Linked DNA regions of Homo sapiens: regions 1, 2 and 4 are each linked to region 3. The links come from fine-mapping of genetic effects on gene expression. A gene starts in region 3. Each other region holds a variant in brackets. All regions are shown on one strand. Distances are between the middles of the regions.

Region 1 (5,000 bases), 29 kb before region 3:
AGAGAGGGACAAGGAGAGGACCCAGAGAGGCCAGAGAGGGACAAGGAGAGGACCCAGAGAGGCCAGAGAGGGACAAGGAGAGGACCCAGAGAGGGACAAGGAGAGGACCCAGAGAGGCCAGAGAGGGACAAGGAGAGGACCCAGAGAGGCCAGAGAGGGACAAGGAGAGGACCCAGAGAGGGACAAGGAGAGGACCCAGAGAGGGACAAGGAGAGGACCCAGAGAGGTCAGAGAGGACCCAGAGAGGCCAGAGAGGGACAAGGAGAGGACCCAGAGAGGGACAAGGAGAGGACCCAGAGAGGCCAGGAGGGACAAGGAGAGGACCCAGAGAGGGACAAGGAGAGGACCCAGAGAGGCCAGAGAGGGACAAGGAGAGGACCCAGAGAGGGACAAGGAGAGGACCCAGAGAGGCCAGAGAGGGACAAGGAGAGGACCCAGAGAGGCCAGAGAGGGACAAGGAGAGGACCCAGAGAGGTCAGGGAGGGACAAGGAGAGGACCCAGAGAGGCCAGGAGGGACAAGGAGAGGACCCAGAGAGGCCAGGAGGGAGTGGAGGAGGAGGTGCTAGTGGCAACAGGGACATGGCAGGCTTTGGAATCCACTTGCTGTGGGTTCCCAGCTGACACACACATGAGCTGCTAAGCCTCTCAGGCTCCTCGTCTGCACCAGGGACTAGGACGGCCCCACCAAGGCCTCAGGACACCACAGGCACTGCATGCGCAGGGTGGACGGAGGGTGGGCGGGGTGTGCACAGCACCACAAGGACGCGCTCTGCCTGGGCCGCGAGGTTCCCAAAACTCAGCGTCCGTGCTGGGAGGGGGGCTCTGCTCAGACACTGGGTCAAGGACGAGTGCAGGGACCGAGGCTGAGAGCACAGGGCAGACGCACAGAGCCTGCGGCTCAGGCTGCTGCAGGGGCGAGCAGGCCCCAGATGGCACTGGACACACGGGGACTGTGGGCTTAGGAGGGGCTAGAACTGGATTCCAACTGAGGCAGCCCCGGCACATGGGTGTGGCCAAGACTGCACAAGGGAATGTGGCTGCCGAGGAAAGCAGGAAGAGAGGTGACCCTTGTGATCAGAGCTCGGCACTGCAAGAACACGTGGCAGAGAAAGAAGGAAGCCCCGAAAGAATGAGCAGAAAAGCAGACAGATGGGGGAGCATTTGCAATTTACATTCCAGACCAGGATCAACAGCCTCCCGTGCTCTAAACGCCTGGTAAACTAGAAGAGGCCACAGTCCACAGCGGCCAGAGATTGGGACCAGGGAGGCCGGGAAGTGCGGCCGGTGGCAGCCCTGAGCATGGGGGAGACGCTGCCTTGCTCAGGAGAGGAGAGATGGTATCGCAACTGTGTGCAACTCCCACCCAGGGAAAGCCCCCCGGCTGCTGTGGAAATGCACAGTGATGCAGCCCCACGAGGGGACTGGGCTGCTTCTAGCAAACTCTACGGGTATTTGCCCCTGACCCAGCAGCCCCACTTCTAGGAACCTATCCCACAGAGCCTCGGCCAAACACACATGCAGGGCTCTTTGCTGCCGCACGGCTGGATCCATGAAAGATCAGAAATGACCCGTATGTCCAACAACAGGGCGCCAGTCCAATAAGCTAGGTGGCAGCCATGTGAGGGAGCGCCGCGCCATTAAAAGATTCAGAAGTCGGCCAGGCGAGATGGCTCACGCCTGTAATTCCAACACTTTGCAGGGCCAAGGCGGGGAGGATCACTTAAGGCCAGGAGTTTAAGACCAGCCTGGGCAACAAAGTGAGACCCCGTCTCTACAAAAAAACATTTTTTTTTTTTTTGAGTTGGAGTCTCACACTGTCGCCTAGGCAGCAGTGCAATGGTGTGATCTCGGCTCAGTGCAACCTCTCCGCCTCCTGGGTTCAAGCGATTCGCCTGCCTCAGCCTCCCAAGTAGCTGGGATTACAGGCATGCACTGCCACACCCGGCTAATTTTTTGTATTTTTAGTAGAGACAGGGTTTCACTATGTTGACCAGACTGGTCTCGAACTCCTGACTTCGTGATCCGCCTGCCTCAGACTCCTAAAGTGCTGGGATTACAGGCGTGAGCCACTGCCAAAAAATTTTTTAAAAGTAGCTGGGCATGGTGGTGGGTTCCTGTAGTCCCAGCTACTCCAGAGGCTCATGTGGGAGGTTCACTTAAGCCCAGGAGTTTGAGGTTACAATGAGCCATGATCCTGCCACTGCACTCCAGACTGGGCGACACAGCAAGACTCAGTCTCTAAAAAGAAATAATAAATAAATAAATAGATTAAGAAGTCACTGCATGTTGCTATGGATATACTATTGAATTTTAAAAGGTGGAGAAAGCCTCTCATTTATGTAAAGAAGTGGGGAGAAGTGGGGAGAAGATACATGTAGAATCAGCTGTGTGACGCATGAAAGACATGCCCTAAACTTGGCTCCTGGTCACCTGTGGGGAAAGCAGAGAGCACCAGGAGGGGACAGGGACAGGAAGCTGACTCTCCTGGAATATACCTTGCTTGATAAATTTGATGCAGGACCCATAATTTAAAAAGAAAATTAAATTTTAAAAAGTCATCTCTCAATATCAAAAATGAAACAAATGAACCTATGTCATTCCTTTGGTGGCACAATCACCCAGCGAAGAAGCACCCAGGTGGTTTTAAAATGCAGTCATTTGGCCGGGCGCGGTGGCTCACGCTTGTAATCCCAACACTTTGGGAGGCC[G/A]AGGTGGGCGGATCACAAGGTCAGGAGTTTGAGACCAGCCTGGCCAATAAGGTGAAACCCCGTATCTACTAAAAATACAAAAAAAAAAAAAAAAAAAAATTAGCCGGGCACGGTGGCAGGCGCCTGTAGTCCCAGCTACTCAGGAGGCTGAGGCAGGAGAATTGCTTGAACCCAGGAGGCAGAGGTTGCAGTGAGCTGAGATCGCGCCACTGCACTCTAGCCTGGGCGACAGAGCGAGACTCCCTCAAAAAAATAAATAAATAAAAAATAATGCAGACATTTGAGATATACCCTGAAGACAATGACAAGTGGCAACTGCAGGAGGCACAGACATGTGCTGTCTCAGCAAAGACACTGTCGGCAGCAGAGCTGGTCCCACAGGTATGTGGGGCAAAGTGAGTGAGTCACAACTGCGTGCCGGTCTAAATCTGTCCTCGCCAGGGCTGCAGAAAACTGGGACTGTCAGTGAGGGAGAAAAGAGACGCAGACATGAGGCCGCAGAGGTTAGGTGGAGCCTGTTGGCCCAAATTTGAAGCATCACTGAAACAAACAAAAACACAGTTCCTAGCTGTAGGAACAGACCTCGAAATAAGACTACCCCGGTGGCCTCCTGAGAGCCCGGCTGTGGTCCTGAATTCTCCTTCTCTCCCTGGACAAGTAGATGATGCCAGACCCCAAACAGTAAACGCACAGGATAGGCCTGAAGCTCCTTTTGTAAAGGACTCCGGGCCACCTTGAAGAGACTCTCACTGACCAAAGATGGAACAATTTGTGGACTGGAAGACATCCAGAACTATCCCCGGCAATCAATAAAGGGTGATCATGTTGGCACAGCTCCAACTAGCAACTCCCAGTGAGTTAGTGGACCCAGACTCTGAGCGCCCACAGCTTTGTTTGTTTGTTAGAGACAGGGTCTCACTCTGTCACCCAGGCTGGAGTGTAGTAATGTGATCACCAGTCACTGCAGCCTCAACCTCCCAGGCTCAAGTGATCCTCCTACATCAGCCACCCGAGTAGCTGGGAGCCCAGGCATGCGCCACCATGCCCGGCTAATTCTTTTTTGTAGAGATGGGATCTCACTTTGTTGCCCGGGCTGGTTCTGAACCCGTAGCCTCGAGCGATCCTCTCGCCTCAGCCTCTGACAGTGATTATAGGCGTGAGCCGTCGCACGCCTGGCCTGCCCACAGCTTTTAAATTCAGAGAAAGAGCAACAAAAAGGCTTCCTGACAGAGGGACACAAACAAGGTCCAGACACAGGACTGCAAACACCAGAGGGCAACACGTGAGACCACTGGACATTTGAACATAGATTGAGTATCTGATGATATTAAATGACTTTCTAAAGTTATTTTCTAAAGTATAATAATAATATCACAGTCACATTAAAAAAGAATCCTTACCCTTTAAATATACATAAGAAATATTTACAAACAAAAGATGTCTGGAATTTGCTTCAAAATACGAGGGAGGAGAGAAGTGGGGGGTGTGGACCAAACAGAAAGAGCCACAGCCCGTCACTGCAGATCCAGAATGAGCCACAGCCAATCACTGCGGATCCAGAACGAGCCACAGCCAATCACCTCGGATCCAGAACGAGCCACAGCCAATCACTGCAGATCCAGAACGAGCCACAGCCAATCACTGCGGATCCAGAACGAGCCACAGCCAATCACTGCAGATCCAGCTATGGGGACATGAGCTCACCACTGTCTGAGTCTGTCTATGTTGGGACTGTCCACGTTGCCAAGTGTGCTTGTGTTTTTTCAATACAAGCTGAGAAGTAGTAAAAAGAGTGGAGTGCCACCAAAGCCTCCAAAGGGGAGTGTTTCAAAGTGAAGTGTAAGGGGTGGAGCTGCCCCACAAGGCCCCTCCCAGCGCCTTTCTACTATGCTTGCCAGTCCTACGTGCTCACATGAAACTTTCACCTCAATCTCTCCACAACCCTCACCTAGGGAATGCAATATACATCACTTCATGTTGTTGAAAAGATGCTTTTGGTCCTAGAATCTTTATTTATTTTTTTTTAAGAGACAAGGTTTCCCTCTGTCATCTAGGCTGGAGCACAGTGGTGAAATCACAGTTCACTGCAGCCTCAAACTCCTGGGCTCAAGCCATCCTCCTGTCTCAGCCTCCCCAGTAACTGGATGACAGACATGTGCCACCATGCCTGGCTAATCTTTTAAATTTTTTTGTAGAGTTGGGGTCTCACTATGTTGCCCAGGCTCTGGTCTCAAGCTCCTGGCCTCAAGCAATCCTCTTCCCTCAGCTTTCCTGAGGGCATGAGCTACTAC
Region 2 (7,618 bases), 58 kb before region 3:
ATTCTGCAGGGAGCCTACTACTCAGGCCTCCATTGTCTCGGTGGCAGAGCTTGTGCCAGTTATGTTTAGTTGCCAGCTTTTGACTGTCATAATGCTTCCATTTGAAACATTGATTGAGCTAAAGATTCACGTTTTTTGTTTTGGAAAATGTAGCCACTTTTCATTTTAAAATGTGTGTTAACAGGTAGTAAGTTTGTTATTGTTATTTTTATGTAGCTAAATAATTTTAAATGTCCTCTTAATTCCTAGTATGGTAAATGTCAATAGATAAAGCTCACATAAACAAAAGCTCTTTGGGGTCCTGTATAATTTTTAAGAATTTAAACGGTTCCAGAAGCTAAAGGGCTTGAGAGGGGCTAACACAAAGCTCTGTGGCCCGCTGGTGACAGGTGCGTCACTGATACTGCAGCCCCATCCTCGTGCCCTCGTGTAAAACAGGGAAAAGGTGGAAATGAGAAAACCCAGCCTGGCTTTCCCGGCAAGAAGGTGGCAAGCGTCACTTGTTTATGTCACAGACAGTAAAGCAGAAGCCCCAGGGTCCGCAGGGGCCAAGTGTGCAGAGGCCAACGCAGTGGCCAAGAGGACCCTGGATTTACCATTTCCTCCACTTCCTGGAGGCCCTGTGGCCTGGGATGGCTCAAACAACCCCAGAACTCTTTACCCACACTTCAAGCGAAACTCCCACATTCCTATGAGCATGCTGCAGTGAGGAAACGAGCCGCAGCCAGGCAGGCTTTGCAGAGGCCACTGTGGGTGCCCGCTGCCAGCCCACGGGCTCTATGCGTGTGTGGGGTATGGCACCTGGAGCACCCAGCAGCCCAGGACTCCAGCTGTGGCCACAGAGTGGGTGGGGGGGCACACGCTGCTTTGTGTCAGGAATCTCGGACTTGAAGCACACACAAGGTCAGAAGGGCTGTGTGACATGTGCAGCTGTCCCTATCTTCTAATTGGTCGCTGATGGCAGTTGGTGGGACGTCTGCAAAATGCCCGCAGCATCTAGAGGAGCAGCCTCACCGGGACACGCGCATTCAGCTAAAGGATTTGGACTAAGAGATCCCCCAAAAGAGATTTCTATTCATCCTGTTTAGCAAAAAAAAAACAACCCCAGACTTGCATGATGGCTCACACCTGCAATCCCAGCACTTTGGGAGGCCGAGCTGAGAGGGTCCCTTGAAGCCCAGGAGTTCCAAGACCAGCTTAATCAAGACAGTGAGACCCTGTCTTTAGAAAAAGACAAATTAAAAAAGAGCCAGCCATGGCGGTGCATGCCTGTAGTCTCAGCTACTTGGGAGGCTGAGGTGAAGGTCAAGGCTGGCGGTGAGCCGTGATGGCACCACTGCACTGCAGCCTGGGTGACAGAGCGAGACCCTGTCTCAAAAAAGCCCCAAACTGTAAAGAAAGCACACCCTGATGCTCTCCACGTGCTGCAGGCTCCTCGGGTGAAAGGTGGGCGGCAGAGCCCAGGCTGCGCCTCCACGTGGGCAGAAGACACCTCCGGATGTTTCACCAAAGAGGTCACAGGCAGCAAAGGCACCATGGCAAGCTGCTCAACACCATTATTCATGAGGGAAATGCAAATGAAATACACCTGCTGGAACTTAGCAAACGATGGAAGGTGCCAGGCAAAGTTGGAAACACCAATGGCACGGCTACTTCGGAAAAGCATTTGGCAGGGGTAGGGTTTTTTAAACTTTTTTTTTTTTTTTTTTTTTTTTGAGATGGAATCTCACTCTATCCCATAGGCTGGAGTGCAGTGGCTTGATCTCAGCTCATTGCAGCCCCCGCCTCCTGAGTTCAAGCAGTTCTCCTACCTCAGCCTCCTGAGTAGCTGGGATTACAGGCATGTGTCACCAGACCCGGTTAATTTTTGTATTTTTATTAGAGACAGGGTTTCACCATGTGGGCCAGGTTGGTCTCGAACTCCTGAGCTTGAGCGATCCACCCGCCTCAACCTCCCAAAGGCTGGGATTACAGGTGTGAGCCACTGCACCTTGTGGGTTTTTTTTTTTTTTAACATTTTAAAAATAGACAAGTCACAACTGAGTGGAAGGCAGAGAGTTCTGGTCCCCCTGGGTGTTCGGTGAGCTACGCCGCCACCGGGTCAGCGCCCAGAGCCCGCCATTCGCGTCGAGGTCCACGTCGGTCCATCTGTGCTGCCACCACTGACCAGGCAGTTTACAAAGAAGCGAAACGTACTTTCTCACAGTTCTGCAGGTCCGGAAGTCAGCGTCAGTGGGGCGGCAGGCCTGGTTGTCTGGTGAGCGCTGTCCTCACCTGGCGTGGCACTGATGCTCTGTGGGGCAGACCAGGCAGTGTGGGAGGAGCCTCTGGCTCCGGGCTCAGGCAATGGTGGTGGAGCCCCACAGCCAAACCCCTGGAGCATTCCGAGAGCATGGACGTCTTGTGGACCGTGTGTCCCTCTGCCCCAGCCACACTGACCACTGGGACGACTGAGTCTGCTCAGCTTACGCTCCTGAAAAGCACGAAGGTGCTGGGGCAACTTACGGCAGAAGGCAGGCAGCTGAAACCTGGGGCACCGGGCCCTTCGCTGCTTCTAGCAGTAGCGTCCCCCCGCCAGGGGAGGGGGGTCCATCAGAGCCTCCTGCTGCTTGGAGAACCTGGGTGCTCCACCCATCACATGTGCCGCCCGACAGGTGTCACGAGTGTCCCCCAGCCCCCTCTCCACAGGGCAGTTTTTGGAAATGAGCCATTTGCTTGGCCAATCCTCAGGAACACGCGGTCCAAACTTCTGATAACCAGGCATGAGGACTCATCCTTAGCAGATTTGTAGCCCTTTTCAAAATGGCCAGAGCGGCTGAGATGGTGAAAAATTGCTCAGTGTAAAACAAAGGTCACCTGCTGCCCATCTTCAGAGAATCTTCATTCAAATCTTAGAGGTTAACATTTATTTTCACAGATGTGTACACAGCCCTCTGAAAAATCTGAGGATGACTGTGTTAATGCAGTTTGGCACTGACAGTTGTTAAATATTATAAAATAAGTGCGTTCTGCTGGCATCTTTTCTCAGCTGCCATGTCCTTGCTGCCTGCTGGGATGAATGGCACTGGAGGAGGAGCTGGGTGAAGGCACGGGGAGGGGTGAGGGCCTGCAAGGTGTGGGCGACAGGAAAGCCCGGCTGCACACCATCGCCCTCTGCAGAGCCACCGTCGTGCTCCTAAACATCTGGCCACGGCAGCCTGGCTCCCAAAGCTCACCAAGCGAAGGACCGACTGTGAAGTGAACTTCGTACCCAGAGCTGGCAAATGTGGCTTTCGCCTCACAGAAATTTTACATCAGCCTGTAGAAGACGGTGAGGAACCATCTTTTGAGGGGTCCGAGGGAGACCCAGCTCCCGTGCTGCCTGGCAAGCAGCAGGAGCCACCGCCACGTTCTCGGCCACGGCAGGGGCCCCGTCTTTTGTGTCCACTTTACACACAGGCAAGTCCAGATGTGGCCATCAAAGAAAACTGGGACCATCAGGACTTCCTGCAGATGGATCGAACTCTCCTCTGGGGTCCAGCTGCGCCCCTCGTCCACATCTGTGCTGGCTGGAGGGTCAGGGCTCCACTCTGCCCGACAAGCAGTCTGGTGCAGGGGACGCAAATGTCACACCCAGCAGGGCCCGGCACTTGGAGACCTGAACTCTGTCGCCCAGCTCAGTGGGAAGCTCACCAGAACTCGTAACTGTCTTTGCTTTGTTTTCCTTCACGGAAATGACAAGGACCTGTAAAACTTGTAAATCCCCATTTCTGCTGGGGAGAAATTTTCCCCAAAGAGCAGGATGCCTTGTGAGGAGGCCTCCAGGCGTTTCTCTTGTCCTGTTCTAACCTCCTGACCTTGTGTTCAGATGTGCCTGGCAAACCGGGGCAGGTCCTTGGTGTTCAAGGCCAATGCCCCAGATGGACAGCTCCATGCTCAGACACGTGGACAGTGGGGTGCCCGGAGGCCACCAGGGTGGCATGTGGCACTTCTCCAAGTGCCGGGCCCTGCTGGGTCTGACATTTGCGTCCCCTGCACCAGACTGCTTGTCGGGCAGAGTGGAGCCCTGACCCTCCAGCCAGCACAGATGTGAGCTCTGGGGATGGCGTCTGGAAGGGGTGGTGGTGACCGGGAGCACCTGCAGGCACCACTCTTCCTGTACCGGCTTTCCCACTTGCCGCCGGAGGCTGGGAAACTCACGGTACACACAGGCACCTCCCCACGACCAAGGCATCTGGGCCGCTGGCTCGCTCTCCTCCCAGACAGCAGTCTCGGGAGGGTCTGGCTTCAGGACAGCCTGCACCAGCAAAATGCCGGATGTCCATCAGGGCTGGGGACCAGGGCCAGCTGTCCCCCACTTCCCACAACCCAAGCCTCGCCCGGTGAGAAGGCTGCAGGTGTTGGTGACACCCGACCCTTCACCGTCCTTGGACACTAGGGCAGGGCAGACGTCGCCACGTGGCCAGCGACTCAGATCCACACCGTCATCCCAGGTGAGCCTGGTGAGCAGCAGCATGTGCTATGTTGCCAACACGTGCTTTGCATGTGGCTCTCCGTGCTTTGCATATGGCTCTCCGGGAGGCATGCCTGTTCACCGTTCTGTCTCCAGCAGCTCACAATACATACACCCTGAACCAATGACCATAGAACCGAATTCTCATTTCAATTAGCAATAGAATCCAACCAAGGTATTAGGTTCTGTTGGGGAATAAGCTTGCTAGGTTTTTCATTCTGTAAGGACATCCTACATGACAGGATTAATTTTTTAAAAGAACCAAGGGCCTGGCACAGTGGCTCACACCTGTAATCCCAGCACTTTGGGAGGCTGAGGCAGGAGGATTGCTTGAGCCCAGGAGTTCAAGACCAGCTTGGGCAACACAGTGAGATCCTGTCTCTACAAAATTGTTTTAAAAAAATAGCTGGGTTTGGTGGCATGTGCCTATGGTCCTAGCTACTTGGGAGGCTGAGGCTGGAGGACTGCTTGAGCCCAGGATGTCGAGGCTGCAGTGAGCTATGACTGCACCACTGCACTCGAGCCTGGGCAACTGACCCTATCTCTAAAAGTGAATAAAGCACCAAGACCCTTGGTCAAGGCCATACTCACACCCAAACGCGTGGCCCACGAGAAGGCCATCACTTTCCACACATTAAGTGGTGGCCATCTTTATTAGAGATGTTTAACATTCAATAGATATCCAAGGTGACAAAAGTTAGGTCATGGTTTATGTGTTAGCATTTGCAGAAACAGTAACAAAAAGTAGTAAAAAGTTAAAATAACCTCGACACACAGCCGCTTTTGCCATCAGCCTTCCTACCGTTCTTCCTCCACCTCTGGTTTGGTGTCTGTCCTCAAGGACAGCAGAAGAGGGGCTGTCTGTGCAGCCAACCAGCCCCTGAAATACCAGGAGCCTGGTCCTAGAAGAGGACTTGGAAACAAACCCGTGGGCAAATTATCTTAACCAGTAACAAGTGGAATGATCAGTAAGAACTCGTTAAACCTCCCTAAATGCAGTCACTTTCAATGTGTCTGAGTCTCACCTCTGGATGTTCT[CA/A]GCTTGCAACCTTTCTTGGAGAAGGAGCCGGTTCACAACCACAGTCTGGAAAAGCAGATGACCCTCCACCAGAGGCACCTGGGCTCCACATTCCAGCCATCGGGGAATTTCAAAGTCTCCTCTTTGAATAACGCCACAATCCTGAATCCTCAGACCCAGCTACCAGTCACGGAGCGGTTCTGTTCAGACACTTTTGAGTGGCTGGTACGGAGCTCATAGGCCCCGAGGATGACACAGGACTCGGCACCAAACACCATCGCTTCCAGCTTCCAAAGCTACAAAATCAAGCTTTCAAAACGAGTGTTCACTTCCAGAAGTGCTTCCGTCACAGGTGTGATGTGGACGCCAAGACACACGCAGGTGGCACCTGTCACTCAGAAGTGCCGGCCTGAGTAACCTGGACTCCATGCAACCGCGTGTCAGCGTGTGCATGAGTGTGTGCGTGCGTGCACACAACCGACGGTCTTTCAAAGTGCTCCACTGTGATCTCTCGTGTTGACAATTCTACATGAAAAAAAATCAGTCACGGCCAGGCGCAGTGGCTCACGCCTGTAATCCCAGCACTTTGGGAGGTTGAGGCAGGCAGACTACTTGAGGTCGGGAGTTTGAGACCAGCCTGACCAACATGGTGAAAACCCGTGTCTACTAAAAATACAAAATCAGCCAGGTGTGGTGGCGCGTGCCTGTAATCCCAGCTACTTGGGAGGCTGAGGCAGGAGAATCGCTTGAACCCGGGAGGCGGAGGTTGCGGTGAGCCGAGATCATGCCATTGCACTCCAGCCTGGGCAACAAGAGTGAAACTCCGTCTCAAAAAAAAAAAAAAAAGGAAAGAAAAGAAAAAAAAATCAGTCACTTGATAAAGGTGAATGCTGAGATGGACACATACCTATTTTTGGTTAAATAACTTTAATTACACCACTGTAAGTAGATTCTGCCTCTGACCCTCCCACAGGACACAACCGGATGTGATTCTTGTCACTTCTATTTTAAACATGCATACTGGGAAAAACAGAAACACAAGAGTGCTATGGGTACACGCGACGTGTGAGAAGAAAGGAACCCCCTGGAGACACGGACGCGGTGTGCGGTGACAGCCAGGCCTCACTGACAACAGGGCAGCGAATCGCAGCCGGGACGCCTCTGAGGCGGAAGCAGTCTTGGGATTTCCTGTCACGCTCTCGATGCTTCTGCCCACTCTGGTTTGTCACGGGGATGCTTCATTTTGGACAGTATAAAACCGGTGATTAATGCATATCTTGCTCTTCAGCAAAATACTATTCAAGTAGTTTTAACTTAAATATTTTAAAAGTAATCTTTACATTATTGAAGATTGTTAAAAAATACAGAATCTGACAACTTTTCACTCAATCTGATGCTCTGAAACTCTTCACTTCTGTTTTATCATAATTTAGAAGGCAATCCCTGGCCTCTATAAAACTCTCTGCAGGATTAGCTTCAAGATCCATCTTTCCCCCACTGGTTCGAGTTTAAAAGGCTTTCAGAACCTTTTGCCACTGCATTATAAAGAGAACATGAACCCCTTCCCATTACTTCCTTTAGCTACACATGCTATGACTGAGAGTGTGCTGGAAGCTAAACAAGCCCCAGCTGATTTCTGCCACATAAAAGGGCGCCGTGAAGAATTTCCCTGTTGAAACCTTAATGAAGACGATGATCCCAAGTGAAGCTTTATGAAGAGACGGCACAGCAGAGTGAAATGTTTGGCAATCAACAGTTAATTAGAATTACATCCTTGATCAGGGATGATGCTATCTCCGCGAACTCAGTCGTTAGAAAAGTTGGTTTCTGCTGTGACGAGGCTCACAGTGGCCACTCGAGGAAGTCCAGCCTCGTCAGCCTCCGGTCCCGGGCCCCAGGCCCCTCCAGGCCCTCAGTAGATATCTGGGCAGTCGGAGAAATTCCGCTCAAAGTAATCCCCTGCATACAACCAGTCGGGGGTCCCAGTGTAGGGGTTATTGCCTGGGTAGAACCACCTGCCGGATACAAGGGAGGGGGGTCAGAAGATGCTCAGCCCAAAAGGAAAACGCAGCCCTGTTCTGGGTGCAGGAGTGTGTTCCCCCAACTCA
Region 3 (7,751 bases):
TGATGAGAAGCAGGGGTGAAAACTCCATGATGTTAACCCAGGAGCCTTCTACCCTGACAGCCGAGCCACTGAAGAGGCGGAGCTGCCGGGCAGGCGCTGCGGGGCAGGCGCTGCGGGGCAGGGGCTGCGGGGCAGGCGCTAGGGCTCCTCGGGCACCTCTGCACTGGGACCCCTCCCCTGGCCCCAGCTCAGGCACTGCCCTGGCTCTGCTTCCGCTCAGGTGTTCCAGCATTTCCCACAGGTGAGACTTACTTGGAAGACGGGTGATGATTACAGCGAGACTCCCAGCTCTGCTACATCATCAAGAGAGGCCAAGCCAGAGCCAGGGCACTCGCAGGAGCTCGCCACCACAGACGCAGCCCGTGTCCTCTTTCACAGTAAGAGGGTAGCCCCACGCCCTGTGCGCACCTGACACCTGCCGTCATTATCGGAGTCACCGAAATGTCACTGAATCACAGTCCCCCTAGTTTTAAGGCAATAATGGAAGTTGCTCTCTGGCCGAGCACAGTGGCACAAGGTCCCAGGTTACAGGGGGCTCTTTCTCACGATCAGCCTTGGATCAGCCTTAGGTTTATTCAGTACAAAGCACAGGCACTCACTTCCACACCATAGTCCTCCTTCCTCTACAGCTGCCTCCGTCTTTTCTGGAACCAAAACTCCACACAACTCCCTACACACTACAGTCCTCCCTGCCTGGTGCTCCTCCAAGAACTCCCCGTATGAGCCCACAACAGGCGCTCTCTGGGCACCCCTGAAGGTTGCAGTCCCAGCGCCTTTGATAAAGAAATGTGCTCAGTGTCTGCTCAGCCAAGAGCCCCTCAGACCCTTCCCACCCCTGACTTGCCTCAGCGTCGGGGCCACAGCCCCCAGGCCCTCAGTGCGCAGGTGAGAAGTACACACCTTACACCCAGGAGAGAGGCCTGATGACCGCCACAAGCCCTGAGGGTGCGGGAACCTCTTCAGGCCCCAAACTATGGAGCCAGCCACTAGCTCAACAGGACTGATCCCAGAGTTTGTTTCTCAAAATACATCAAGCGAGTGTTCCACTGAAAACAGAAGGCAAGCAAAGAGAAACAGCCACAAACATCAGGCACGAGTCTCAGATCCAGTCCCTTATAAAAGCTCACTTCCACCACTCAGCTCAACTCAGAGGTCACAGGATTTGCATCAGCAGAAGCTCCAGCGGAAAGAATGTGGATGCTGTGACATTCTGCTGAATGATCCCAAGTTCTTTTCTGAATCTGGAAGGAAAAGGAAAGAAGTGCCAAAAAGTTCACGCAAACAGTGCTGTGAGCTATTTAACAGATGCTTTTATTATCAAGAGCTGCAGAGGTGGGCCGGGACACCACCACGCTTCCACAGTGGGACCCTAGCCCAAACCAGCAGCCTGAGAGGCCGGGACACCATGCCTGAAACTCACTAGCAAGAACACTCTGAAAAAGCAAAAATGACAGCAGATTTACAAATCAACTAGCATATGTGGAAAGTGCATTTAAACTATCAAACCAGAACCCACCATATTAACTCAGGACTTCGGTCCTTTTTAATAATCAGTCATGTTCAAATACTGACTTCCTTTCAGTGTAGATAAGGTTATAAATCAACCTGAAAATGTACTACATATTGGAATTAAACCTCGTACCTGACAATCTGTGCTAAACACTAAACGAAATGTCAACACCCAAACAGGAAGTATGACAATGACTAGGAGAAAATCAGCCCACACCCAAAGATCCCGGGACACCTGAGGGTGTGACTGCTGCACTGCTGAGAGGCTCCAGCTTCAGCAGGTGTTGGAGCCAAGGGCGGCCCAGGCACCCACAACGTATCAGACACTTGATGTTATATTTTCACAGATTCCACATAGTAATCCGTCTTACAGGCAAAGACACTGAAGGCAGGAGCCAGTGGGAACCCACCCAGGACCCAAGAGCCCTGGTCTGGCGCACCACCTTCGCAAAGATGCTGTGACTCAGGAAGGCACGGCGCCAGCTGTGCCTGCACGGCCAGACAAGACATGGCTTGCATGGGGACATTAAAGAAATCACCTTGAGGAGATGGCAGCTTCCCTGCTTGAAGACAGCATAAGAACCTAAAATGTGTCAACAATTCCCTTATACAAAATGTCACTTTTGTAATTGGCTGAATGTACTAAAACTTTAAAAGTCGAGCAAGCTTTAATGACAAATCCAAGACCCAAAATTAGCCAGGTGTGGTGGCGGGCGCCTGTAGTCCCAGCTACTTGGGAGGCTGAGGCAGGAGAATGGTGTGAACCCGGGAGGCAGAGCTTGCAGTGAGCTGAGTTCGCGTTTGCAGTGAGCCGAGTTCGCGCCACTGCACTCCAGCCTGGGCGACAGAGCGAGACTCCATCTCAAAAAAAAAAAAATTCCAAGACCCATCTGCTGGCATCTCCTGGACGGCACAGAGGAGAGACACTGGGATGAAAGTCAAGTGGCATTTTTTTCACATTCAAACAGCACCTCTCATTAACATGTGGAACACAGCAGAGTCTGACCCTCTCAACGCACTCGAGGCGTGGAAGAAAAATGTCCTACGTGTGTACTCTAAGGCAGTGTGTGAAGTCCCCTGGAACTGAACTCAGAACGGAGACCTCAGAGTCTGGACTGTACGCCTGTCAGCACCCATGCCCCTCAGTCCTCCCTCTTCACACAGAGACCACCACTGAATCTGCCAGTAACAAAGGAGCTGGGTGGCAGGGAAGGTATTCTGGCAAAATCCTGAATGGTCAAACGGTAAATTACTTTATTTCAGAAAAAATGAAATGGCTTTGTAAACACTCAGGCTCACAAAAAAGAAAGTCTATTAGTTCTATATGTAGCAAAATCCCGAAATTCTGACACAGAGTAATGCAGCATGATTAGAATATTCTAAACGAAAATGTTAAATGAAAATCTTGATATTAAAAGGCAGTACAGGGTAGTGTTTAAGAGTGTGAACCCTGGAGCCTGGGTTCAAATCCATATTTCATAATTTACTGCTGTGTGGTTTAGGTAAGTTACTTAACCTCTCTGTTCCTTAGCTTCCTCATGAATGAACTAAGGATAATGTCAGTACCTGCCCAGTGGACTGTTGTGAAGATCACACAAAGAAAGTGAATACGACATGCTCGTAACAGTCCTGGAACAATCATTATTAAATATTATCGTCTGCTGGGGTAAGAGCTGTCATTAATAGATGGACACATGAAGAAAACAGGGTAAATTCTATGAGGGAGACTCAGTCACTCACTCACTCATTGCCACATTCTAAAAGACGACACTGTGGCAGGCACTGGGCTGGGCAGGGAGGAAGTGCCACCGACAAAGTTCCTGTCCTCAACAAGGGGAAGGTAACTGGCATTCCGGGGTGCGCACTAGGTGTCAGAGACTGTGGTAGAAAATGATTTCATGGCAGGGCGCGGTGGCTCGCACCTGGAATCCTAGCACTTTGGGAGGCTGAGGCAGGCGGATCCCTTGAGGTTAGGAGTTCGAGACCAGCCTGGCCAACATGGTAAAACCCCATCTCTACTAAAAATAAAAAAATTAGGCGGGCGTGGTGGCCGGCGCCTGTGGTCCCAGCTAGATGGGAGGCTAAGGCAGGAGAATGGCTTGAAGCCGGGAGACGGAGGTGGCAGTGAGTCAAGATCGCACCACTGCACTCCAGCCTGGGCAACAAAGCGAGACTCCATCTCAAAACATAAAACAAGAAAATGATCTCGTTTGCTTCTCTTATCAGCAAAGTGCTACATGTCCGGATGAAGGAGTTGAGGCTGACAGCCAGAAAAGAGGCCATGGGCACGAGTTAGGAAGGGCAGCAGGGACGGCCGTGGCTTCCCAGCATGTGGCCCCTGCACCAGTTCCGGGCTCCTCAACTCTCCGCTGTCCTCACCACACATCCAGCTGGTGGGAAGGCCGCACAGCACCCAGCCAGGCCCACAGCAGGCATTCGAGAAACGTCTATCCAACCAAACCGAATGGGACCCCTTCTCCAGGTGTTCCGGGCAGTCATCCCAAAGCTGCCGGAGCCAGGCTAGGCCAGGGCCTGTCCTAGAGGACGGTTCAGATAGAAACGCCCCTGGGAGGTGACCCTCACCCCAGGAGAGCCTGCAACACCCCGACACCCACTGCCTCGTCGCCGGTCCTCCCATGAAGCGGGGAGGCTGAGGTGCTGTGACGACCTAACAGTCTTGGTCTGGGCTTATAAACTTGGAAAGTCTAAAGACGTATTCTTCTGAGTACCAAAATATAACTGGCGAAAGAAGGAACCTCTTAAAATTACATTACCAAAGATAGGTTTTAGGTAGCAAGTTCTCAACCGTGTGTAGTCTGCTAAGATTTATAAATTAAAAACAAAAACAGAGCCCAGGGGAACGGACAAGGGCTCGCGGGCACCCTCCCCGGGACGACGTGCACACAGGCCTGCGGGACAAGAAGGCCAGGGTCGGAGTGGGACTGCGTCTCCCTGCCCTTCTTCCCGGCGGAACTCGCCCTCCTCACCTACAGGATCGCCCTAAATGCGCACGAAATCCTTCCCTGTTCCCGGTGAGGTGGTGAGAGAGGGCGAGGCCGCGAGCAGGTGCGCCCGTCCCCACTTCCTGCTCAGCGGGGCAGCAGGGGGGCTGGGGATCTCGGGGGGGCCGGGCCGGGGGTCCCGGGATCGCAGTTGCCGGGCGACCGCAGGGGGAAGGGTGCGGGGGCCGCGGGACCCAGGCCCAGGCCCCACGCCCGGCCGGAACTTTCCTCCCAAAGTTTCCCCGGGGCGCCAGGCTGCGGCCTAGGCCGGGCGCGCCTCCCAGTGGGGGTCGAGGCCGGGGCCGGGGCCGGGGCTGGAGGCGGCCTGCGGACCCGGGTCCTGCCCGGCCCGCCCTCCCCTCCCCGCCCCGGCTCCAGCCCCAGCCCGCGGCCCAGGCCCCGCAGCTCGCCGGGGTCCCGGGCCTTCGCGTGGCGGCGGCGGGGGCCACTCACCTGGACGCGGGTCCCTCGGTTGCCGGCCGAGCTCACTGCCGCCCCGCCCCCGCCCCGTAGGCCCGCGACCCACTGACACCGAGGCGGAAGTGCGGCCCGCCGCCTCGCCGACTGACAGCCCGCGCCCGCCACTCGCTGCGCCCGGCGCCGCCGCGTCGGCCGCTGCCTGCCCAATCAGCGCCCGGCCCGAGGCTCGCGCCGGGGGGTGGGACTATGCTAATCCCTTCGCGAAGGGCCTCTACCTGTGCCCCCTCAGAGCCCCGCCCACGCAGCGGAGTGACGGCAAGGACAGCCAGTCACAGCAGGAGAGAGGCGGGGTTATGCCGCCCCTGAGCCAAAAGGGGAGGGAGGCAAGGAGGAAAGGGCGTGGCTGCAGAGAGCAGAGTTGACAAACAGTGAGTCAGGTGGCCCGGGGCGTGGGTGCTCCGCCCTCAGGTGCACTGCGTCCTGGCGGCAGTGCGGGCCTGCGAGGCTACCCAAAGCCCTGGGGGCTTTTTCCTACAAATGCTGGGGACCGTGCGATAGCTGGGGCGTAGCTGCTTCCACTGTCCTACCAAATCCTGAATATCGTCCACCTCCTTTGCATGCCATTCACCGCCAACCAAAATCCAGCGCCAATTTACCCCTCCAGCTGCATCCCCGACCGTTTCACCACCATACTTAAAACCCTTTGGACTCCCACTGACCTACAGTGGCTCCAGGGTTAAGCCCAGAAGTTCTGGAATCAGACCTGGAGCTTGCATTCTTTACCAGCTGTGTGGATTTGGACAAATTAATTAACCTCTCTGAGTCTGTGATCACTCAGTTTCATCTGCAAACCAGGGTTCCCCTGTCAACATCTCATTGAAGTCATGGGTCTGGTTTGAGGTGAGTGGAGTGGCATAAACCAGGCTGGCTACATAGTCACAGCAGTTGGTTTAGGGGTCAGCCTGTGACCCAGTTCTAGCCAAAGAGGCTCAGTCCTGGGACTTTTGCTGTAGGGTCAGAGTTCAGACCGGAGGGGAGGCTGAAGTCAAATGACTCTCCCATCTGCCCACAGACCTCTCCAGAGCTGGGTTAGGTGAGAGAGGGAAGGGGCCAGTCTTCCACATCTCACTACCCGAGAACAGGGCTGCACGAGAATGAAGCCAGCCCAGAGGAAAGCCGGAGCAACCACGGCCGGGTCACGTGGACCCTGCTGCACCTCAGCAGGTCCTTTCCTTGACTTTTCAGTTACGTGAACCACATGCTTGTTTCTGCTTCAGCCCATTTGAGGTAAAGCCAAGAGTCCTGGGCTTCCTGTGGCCTTGAGAGCTCTGGCAGATGACCCGTGACCCCGCAGTGCGTCCTGCAGCAAAGCCAGCCCCCGTTGGGCCTCTGCACCCCCTCCTCAGGCCTTGTCTCCCCACTTCCAGGCTGCCCCTAGCAGGGCCATGGAGGCAGGGACAGGCCTTTGCCCCATCTGTGGCCCCGTGGCAGACGTGGGTACTCTCTATAAATTTCAGGGCATGAGTGAGCCAATGAACGTGGCCTCTGTGGCAGGGGTGGGGCCCAGGCCACATCTCTGGGCCCAGCAGGGCCGTTCTCCCCCACCCCAGGGGCTGGCCCCACTCACTGGTGGGCCACTGTCAGTCGGCGCCACTAGAGACGTGCCGGGACCAGGAAGGAGCTGGCTGAGCCTCTCCTGAAGAGAGAACGGGGAGGAGGGCGGGCAGGCCTCAGAAACAAAGGGGTTGCCATGGTTACCTCTGAAGAAAGCGACTCCAGCCGGTGAAAGGGAAGGGAAGGCGTGCGGCCCCCAAGCCAGGACAAGGACGATGAGGCCAGTTGCCACGGAGATGACTGCGCTCCACAGCTTTCCCTGTGGGCCTTGCCAGGGCCAGCTCAGGGTCCCAGAAACCCATCACTCTCCATGTCCCTCACCCTAAGTCTCTAAGACTCTAACCCCTGTGCCCTTGAGGGGATCCAACCTGCCCACCCACCCCTTGACCACGAGCTCTGCAGTGAGGGCAGCCTCAGAGGCTCAGGCAGAAGGACCCTCTCATCTGCCCAGGGACCACCCCAGGGCCAAGCAGGGAGATCCACCCTGGCCTTGGGGTTGGGGGTGTGATCTCAGATGGCCCCTGGGCTGGAGCAGGGGTTTCACCCCTCTCCACAAATGCAGTAACTGAGCTTCAAGGGTAGTCTGCCGTCAGCCAGCACTGCTGGAGACGTGCCAGGACTGGGAAGGGTACTTCCTCCCCGGGGCCAGTTGCTGGGACTAGGCGAGAATCCTCCCTCAGTTGGTGGGTAGTAAGGAGGGTGCCTTGAGACCAACTTAGGCGTCTTTGTTATGATCTTTACTAGGTCACGAGGCCAATTCAAGAGGCACAGTTCTCCAAGGATGGAAGATGGGGGTGGAGAAGGCAACAAAGATGGATGAGCTGGGGCCATGATGATGAGGATGATGATGTTGATGATGATGATGGTGATGGCGGCCGAGTGCCCTGTGATTTACAGGCCCATCTGGTTTCATGTTTGCAACAGCCAATCAAGTGGGTACCAGGTGCCATCATTCCCACTTTACAGATGAGAAGACTGAGCCCCAGACAGGTTAAGTGACTCCCCCAGCCCTGCAATGAGGAAGGGCCCAGCACAGCTCCAGGCACAACAAGCAGGCACTCCAAGCATAGGGAGGTCTGGTGGACCAGGCCTGGCCCAGGAGCTTGTCGGCAAGGCAGAGCCGCATCCAGGCTCCCGGACCAGGATCCGCACACGAACAACAGGCCCAGGAGTTCCCATGGCTGTGGCTGCTGGACCCCCGCACCA
Region 4 (7,751 bases), 54 kb after region 3:
AGTTCGAGACCAGCCTCGGCAAAATAGCAAGACTCCTGTCTCTACCAAAGGAATTAGCTGGGCATGGTGGCGCACCCCTATAGTCCCAGCTACTTTGGAGGCTGAGGTGGGAGAATCACTTGAGCCCATGAATTCAAAGCTGCTATGAGCTATGAATATGCCACCGCACTCCAGCCTGAGCAATAGAATGAGAGAAAGAGACACTTTTTTTTCTTTTTTTTTTTTGAGACAGAGTCTCACTCTGTCACCCAAGCTGGAGCACAGTGACATAATCACAGCTCATTACAGCCTTGACTTCCTGTACTTAAGAGATCCTCCTGCCTCAGCCTCCTGAGTAGCTGGGGCTACAGGTAAGTGCCACTGTGCCTAATTTTTAAATTTTTTTTGCAGAGACAGGGTCTCCCAGTTACCCAGGCTGGTCTCAAGCGATCCTTCTGTCTTGGCCTCCCAAAGTGCTGAGATTACAAGCATGAGCCACCACACCTGGCCTGAGACCCTGTCTAAAAATAGAAAAATAAAAACAGTAAAGACATAAAATCTGAACAATACTATCAAAACATTTATCTAGTTGACATTTACATAACAGTACATCCAACAACTGTACAATATACACTGTTTTCAGGTACAGGTGGAAGTCATCAAACAGACCATAAGATGTGTCATAAGTCTCAATACATTGAGAAGAAATCATAGTCAGTCCTCCGTATCTGTGGGGTCAACAAACCTCACGTCAAAAATATCTGGAAAACAAACAAAAAAACCAGTAACAATACAACAATTTTTTTAATTTAAAAAATAAAGTATAACAGCTATTTACATAGCATTTACATTGTATTGTACTATAAATAATCTAGAGATTACTTGAAGTATACAGAAAGGCCCGGTACAGTGGCTCACACCTGTAATCCCAGCAGTTTGAGAGGCCAAGGCAGGAGAAAAACTTGAGGCCAGGAATTTGAGAACAGCCTGGGCAAAATAGCGAGACCTTGTGTCTACCAAAAAAAAAAAAAAAAAAAAAAAATTAGCTGATTAGCTGGACATGGTGGTGCATGCCTATAATACCAGCTACTTAGGAGGCTAAGGTGGGAGGATCACTTAAGCCCAGGAGTTGGAGGCTGCAGTGAACCATGATCACACACTGCACTCCAGCCTGTGTGACAGAGCTTCTGTGGTGGGGCTGGGGGGAAGTATATGAATACCAACCACAGGGTCTATTCTCGGAATTAAATTGGAAGTCAATAGCTAGAAAATATCTAGGAAAATCCCAAATACCTGCAAATCAAACAAGCTTCTTCTAAATAATCCATAGGCCAAAGAAGAAATCAAAAGAGAAATTACAAAATGTTTTGAACTGAATTATAATGGAAATGCAAAATACCAGAATTTTTTTTTTTTTTTTTTGAGACAGTCTCGCACTGTCGCCCAGGCTGGAGTGCAGTGGTGTGATCTCGGCCCACTGAAAGTTCTGCCTCCCGGGTTCACGCCATTCTCCTGCCTCAGCCTCCCGAGTAGCTGGGACTACAGGCGCCCGCCACCATGAAATACCAGAATTTAAGAGATGCAGCTAGAGTAGTGTTTAGAAGGAAACTTACAGCTCTAATGGCTACCTTGGTAAAGAAGAAAGATCTAAAATCAGTAACCTAAGGCTCCAAATCAAGAAACCAGAAAGAGCAAAGTAAGCGTCGAGTAGAAGGAGGAGAATAATACAGAGCAGAAATAAAGAGACAACAATAACATGTAACAGAAAAAAACAGGTTCACTGAAAAGACAAGCTAACTAACACACTTCTAGCCTGATCAGGAAAACGAGAGAGCGCAAACCTCCACTGTCAGGAATGTTCAACGGGTTATCAGGACACACCTTACAGACAGCCAGAGGGCAAGAGAATGCTGGGAACGACTTCATGCCAGCAAATTCAGTAACAAATTCAACTTACATGAAATGGACAAATTTCTTGAAAAAGGCAACTTATTAAAGAAACACAAGAATAAACAATCTAGAATAGCCCTGTATCTACTCAATAAGTTAAATTTCTTATAAAAGAACACTCCCCAAAGGAAAACTCTAGCTCGGCTTGTTTTCCTGGTAAATTCCATGTAACATTCCAGGAAGAAACAGTGCCAATCTTACACAAGCTTTTTCAGAAAATAGAGGAAGTGAGATCACTATCCAACTCATCCTATGAGGCTAGTACCAAAATCTGACACTAAGAAAAAATAAAATTATAGACCATACCCCTCATGAATATAGATGCAAATAACTCTTAACAAAATATTACCCAATTGAATCCAGCAGTTCAGAAAGGATCACACATCAAGACCTAGTAGGGGTAATCTCAGAACACAAGGCCACATCAAGCAGTCAAAACTCAGCCCAGGCACTTCACTATATCAACAGGTGGTACCACCGTCTCAACACCCACTCATGAGGAGGAAAACAAAACATCTCAGCAAACTGGGAACAGACGGGAACATCTTCGCCCTGATAAGGGCACTACGTAGGGCCGGCCGACAGCTAATCACATTTAATGAAGAAATACTGAATGGTTACCTCCCAAGATGGAGAAAAAGGGCCTCCACACATACCACTGCTATGCAACAATGTCCTTTCACACACTGAAATAAAGGGGGAAAAAAGGAAGAAGTAAAACTGTCCCTGTTTACAGAAGAGAGGACAGAGTTCCACAGAGAATCCCAGGGAAGGCTGGGCACGGTGGCTCATGCCTGTAATCCCAGCACTTTGGGAGGCCGAGGTGGGCGGATCATTTGAGATCAGGAGTTCAAGACCAGCGTGGCCAACATGGTGAAACCCCATCTCTACTAAAAATATAAAAATTAGCCAGGCGTGGTGGCACGTGCCTGTAGTCCCGGCTACTCGGGAGGCTGAGGCAGGAGAATCGCTTGAACCTGGGAGGCAGACGCTGCCGTGAGCCGAGATCACGTTACCGCACTCCAGCCTGGGTGACAGAGCAAGACTCCATCTCAAAAAAAAAAAAAAAAAACAAAAAAAAAAGTCCCAGGGAAGGGAACTGAGCAAGATGGCATGTTATCAGGCTAATATAAAAAAATCAGTTGTATTCTTAAATACCAGCCGCAAACAACTGTAAATTAAAATTAAGAAAAAACCCCATTTATGGTAGTGCCAAATACAAAAAGTACCTGAAAATAATTTCACAGTAAACCTTCAAGACCTCTACCTCACTACTTGCAAAATACTGTTCTAAGTATTTTTCAGGGATTAACTCATTCAGTCCTCATAAAACTCTGTGAAGTAAGTCCTTCATCATCCTCATTTTAAAGTTGCGGAAACTGGGCAGACAGGTGAAGAGACTTAACCCAGAGCTATCAGATGGGAAGGCTCAGGGGTGGTGCATAAAAACAGGTTGGGGAAAAACAACTCGGGCTCATCAACACAAGCATAGCCACGGCTCAGCCTGCTGGAACGTTACACCATCCAGCC[CG/G]GATATTCTGGAAACCAGGCTTCCTGATGCAGGTGACATGGAACCTGCAGATCAACCGCAGAGAAGGTTGCAAAGCCAACCAGAGACCTGAACTCGGAGTCTTGCCTAATTTGCTTCCTCCTTTTTGCCCTTTCAATTTCTCTTTGGAGGCCCGCTGAGTGCTGTGCTCTCTCCCCTGCCGGATGAACAAATCCCACTGTTTTCACGCTGCTCTTTGGTGTCTTTATTTTCCTTCCAACAAGGCTGTCCTTGACCTGTCCAGCACAGTCCCCACTGGCCAAATGTGGCCATTTGGCTAAAATTAACTGAAATGTAAAAACTCAGTCCCTGAGGTAACATCTAAGTGCACACAGCCACATGTCACGAGTGGGTACATATGGGACAGCACATATTAGAACACTGCCCTCATCACAGAAAGGTTTTTTTTTGAGACAAGAGTCTCACTCTGTCTCACTCCCAGGCTGGAGTGCAATAGCATGATCTCACCTCACTGCAACCTTCGCCTCCTGGGTTCAAGCAATTCTTGTGCTTCAGCGTTCCAAGAAGCTGGGATTACAGGCACCCATCACCACGCTCAGCTAATTTGTGTACATACATATACATGTATATATATGTATGTGTATATATTTTATTTTTTATTTTTTATTTTTATTTTTTTTGGAGACAGTCTCGCTCTGTCGCCCAGGCTGGAGTGCAGTGGCATGATCTCAGCTCACTGCAACCTCTGCCTCCCGGGTTCAAGGGATTCTCCTGCCTCAACCTCCCGAGTAGCTGGGATTACAGCTGCATGCCACCACGCCCAGCTAATTTTTGTATTTTTAGTAGAGACAGGGTTTCACCATGTTGGCCAGGCTGGTCTTGAACTCCTGATCTCGTGATCCGCCCACCTCAGCCTCCCAAATTGCTGGGATTACAAGCATCAGCCACCACGCCCTGGCCATTTTTTTTCTTTTTTATTTGAGGCAGAGTTTCACTCTTGTAGCCCAGGTTGGAGAGCAATGGTGGGATCTTGGCTCACTGTAACCTCCGCCTCATGGGTTCAAGTGATCCACTCGCCTCAGCCTCCCGAGTACCTGGGATTACATGCACCCACCACCACACCCAGCTCATTTTTGTATTTTTAATAGAGACGGGGTTTCACCGTGTTGGCCAGGCTGGTCTTGAACTCCCGACTTCAGGAAATCCACCTGCCTCGGCCCCCCAAAGTGCTGGGATTACAGGCGCGAGCCACCACACCCAACCAATATATCCACTTTTAAATGTATTCCTAACGATAATACCCTGCGAGGGGTAATACTGCATGCCGAGCTATCTTCCATTTGCTTTTCCAGACCAGCTTTCCACCCTGCCCTGTGCTGTGTGTCAGGAGCCTGAGCTTGCCCCATAGGAAAACCTACTGGGACCTGGCCCTCTACCAGAGACTGGAGGCAGGAGCAGGAGGCCGGGACATGGACCTCCCTGCCCACTCAGACTGAGGCTCACACCTCCAGTCCAAGAAGCCCTCCCCAGTGACTCTTCTCCCTGTCCCGATCACTGCTGCCTTCCCTGATCCTTTGGAGTCCAGGAGTAGAAACTCCACTGCCACCAGTTCCAGGCTAAAGGACCAACTGTCATTAACCTGCACTCTGCCTTTGCAAACGGTCCCTTTATAAACCCTCCTCAAATCCTCCTGTGAGCATGAAACCTGATTTTTTTTTTTTGGGTATGTTTTTGAGACAGAGTCTCGCTCTGTTGCCTAGGCTGGAGCAGAGTGGTGCGGTCTCGGCTCACTGCAACCTCCACCTCCCAGGTTCAAGCGATTCTCCTGCCTCAGCCTCCCCAGTAGCTGGGATTACAGGCGCCTGCCACCACGCCCGGCTACTTTTTTGTATTTTTAGTAGAGATGGGGTTTCACCATGTTGGCCAGGCTGGTCTTTAACTCCTGACCTCGTGATCTGCCCGCCTTGGCCTCCCAAAGTTCTGGGATTACAGGCGTGAGCCACCGCGCCCAGCGGAAACCTGATTCTTGACTTTACATTTTTTATGCCCATCTAAAGCAGTGGAGGCTGAGACTCACAGAGGTTCAGTCACTTGCCCAAAGTCACATAGTATCCTCTGGCCTCCCTGGCATGCTGCTGACACCTGCATTTTACGGCAGGAATCTTCTCACTGAGGTTCGCCTACACAGACTTCCCAAGGGACTAAGGCCAGGATAATTTCAAAGGAATCCATTTTCTGCCCAAGTTTCGCTACGTTCTCTCTGCTAAAACAGAACTGCCTGAGGACGAACCTGCGTTTAAAACAATTTGAATTCTCCTTTCCCGTCCCCCTTTTATAATGGGTCCTCCCCTTTACAAAAGAAAGGTATTTCTCTAGTGACACTGCCCAACAACCCCTCTAATTCCCACCTACAGGTCTGTGTGAACGCCGTTCCTCGGTATCCACAGCTACGAGAACGTAAATGGGAATAGAACGGGTAACCCGCTCTCACTGGGCAGAAGCCAGCCACGGACAGTGAATTATCTGGAAATGCGTCTCCCTGAGGCGCGTTTACAATACAAAACTTTATTGTTGTTTTATCATCCAAATGTGTATATATTTATGTTGTTTTGTGCAACTGTATACTGCCAATAATCACTTTAAAATGTTTAATACTTAGAGCGCTGGATCAAGGCAAATTCCTAACAACTTGACTCGGAACTCACACACGGCACCCATCCCGTGACAGAGCACCACCGGGGTGGCTGACAAGACTTCTGACCCCAAAACGCGGTTCTGCGGAGAGAGTGGGGCAGGACCGGGGAGCAAGGCGCCGCTCCCCACCGCCCGAGCGCTCGCTACTCCAGGGCCGCAGCGCTCGGTCCCGCCGGGGTTCGCAGCCCGGCAGCCCTCCAGGCCTCTCAGCTCCTAGGCCGGGGCCTCTCCCGCTCCCAGCGCCCCGGTACCCCGCGGCCCAAGCCGAGGCCCCTCCTTGCGCCCGGGCCGCGACCACCCCCCAGGCCCACGCTCCCCGCTCCCCGCTCCCGCACTCACCGGCTCGGGAAAGCACGTCACTTCCGGAGCGTCGCAAGCGGCCGACCACTTCCGGGGCCTTTTGGCTCCGGAAGCCCAAGGCTTGCCCAGTGCGCAGGTGCAGAAAACACGCCGACGGACCGAGAGGCGACCTTGTCCCTGGTAGCGGAAGCAGGAGCAACGGCAGGAGGGATGCGGAGCGCTCAGCTGCAGCCGCGCTTCTCGCCGGCGCCCTCGCTGCCCGAGCACAAGGACAGCCGCCCCGCCCGTTCCACCCGGTGCCCAAGGTCCCCCAGCTTCTCTGACCCCTCCGGCGTTTGCGGAACCTCCCGGGTCTGACGAGGACACCGCCGTTGCCCGAGGAGGCTACGGGGCAACGCAGAGCAGGCAGTGGGGACCGCAGGGCAGCCCCGGGGCGCCGTCCCCACCGCCCTTACCCTGGCTTCGCCTTGCCGCCGCGGGGAATCCGGTGCGGACGCACGCGAACTCTGCCCGGGAGCCGAGGTGACGATCTACCTGGTCTCGGTAATAAGTATTTGCAAAACACATCACACCAAAATCCCGTTAACTTCATGAAAACTCACTTTATAGGATGATTTTTGAAGAACCAGTTTATTAAGAGATTACACCAAAAGCATAAACAATTTATACGTCAAACTCCGACTGAAAAAAAAATAACCGATAAGGATGTTTTTTAAATGTACTGTACTCACAAATAACAAGACAAATTTGACCTGTTCAATAAATAGAAATGAAGTGGCTAAAAATGTTTAAATGGAAATGGAAAACAGTCGTCTTCTTTGTACAGTTTTGAAGGGGTGCCCCCTATTCACGCCTACACGTAGAAAAACCCTGACAAAATCAGAGGTTCACTTAACACTCCAACCATATGAGCGTATTAAGGTTTCTTTTCAGATCTTAGGAGATCTTGTCCACCTTAATCCCATTCACAGATCTTAGGAGATCTTGTCCACCTTAATCCCATCATAAAGACTGTTGGCATGAGTTCTGATGTACTGTTTTAATATGCTGAGTACTGTTGATTCAACAACAAACCTTAATGGGTGATGAGCTTTTGCATACCAATATGAATTTGTCAGCACTTCTGAAAACTGGCCATCATTTTTCAAATTCACAATTTGCTGGATGTCAGGGAACAATAGGAAGAAGAATGAGCGTCAATTTTCATGTCTTCCTTTGCTTCTTCACTGGCCTTCCATAGAAGTAGTCAGAAAAAAACAAAGCACCATCAACCACACTTCACAAACAATTCATGTTGGCCTAAGCTTTGCTCAACATT

Which allele goes with the higher level. Positions count from the first base shown, and alleles are read on the strand shown. Sizes are in standard deviations (SD) of each study's normalised expression. Not every link is listed here.
With allele A in place of G in region 1, the expression in B cells of the gene that starts at base 5,041 in region 3 is lower (large effect, 1.0 SD a copy in Fairfax 2012).
For the expression in monocytes after LPS of the gene that starts at base 5,041 in region 3, allele A in region 2 goes with a lower level than allele CA (large effect, 1.2 SD a copy in Fairfax 2014).

Evidence for each region. PIP is the estimated chance that this variant, and not a neighbour inherited with it, causes the effect.
Region 1: its variant is fine-mapped to the expression of OSBPL2 in B cells (Fairfax 2012, PIP 0.95).
Region 2: its variant is fine-mapped to the expression of OSBPL2 in monocytes after LPS (Fairfax 2014, PIP 0.95). The same link has a PIP of 0.9 or more in B cells, CD4 T cells, NK cells and neutrophils.
Region 4: its variant is fine-mapped to the expression of OSBPL2 in whole blood (TOPMed, PIP 0.94).

The regions. Positions count from the first base shown.
Region 1 is chr20:62,265,858-62,270,857 of GRCh38, reverse strand. The region is part of intron 4 of OSBPL2 (oxysterol binding protein like 2); the gene reads right to left. Among named protein-coding and RNA genes, the nearest start is that of OSBPL2, 30 kb to the right of the region's middle. The variant G/A (reference allele first, on the strand shown) is at 2,710.
Region 2 is chr20:62,293,692-62,301,309 of GRCh38, reverse strand. OSBPL2 (oxysterol binding protein like 2) reads right to left here. Exons shown (of 14, transcript NM_144498.4): 14 at 5,127-7,525. The coding sequence ends at 7,423. Among named protein-coding and RNA genes, the nearest start is that of ADRM1, 5.5 kb to the left of the region's middle. The variant CA/A (reference allele first, on the strand shown) is at 5,531.
Region 3 is chr20:62,235,811-62,243,561 of GRCh38, reverse strand. OSBPL2 (oxysterol binding protein like 2) reads right to left here and starts at 5,041. Exons shown (of 14, transcript NM_144498.4): 1 at 4,965-5,041. It overlaps LOC105369209 (a long non-coding RNA gene), which reads right to left. Exons shown (of 4, transcript NR_160555.1): 4 at 7,261-7,751. RefSeq lists an enhancer at 3,292-4,216 and a silencer at 4,914-5,313.
Region 4 is chr20:62,181,779-62,189,529 of GRCh38, reverse strand. MTG2 (mitochondrial ribosome associated GTPase 2) reads right to left here and starts at 6,502. Exons shown (of 7, transcript NM_015666.4): 1 at 6,473-6,502. It overlaps SS18L1 (SS18L1 subunit of BAF chromatin remodeling complex), which reads right to left. Exons shown (of 11, transcript NM_198935.3): 11 at 7,016-7,751. RefSeq lists silencers at 6,284-6,453, 6,460-6,644, 6,684-6,873. The variant CG/G (reference allele first, on the strand shown) is at 3,460.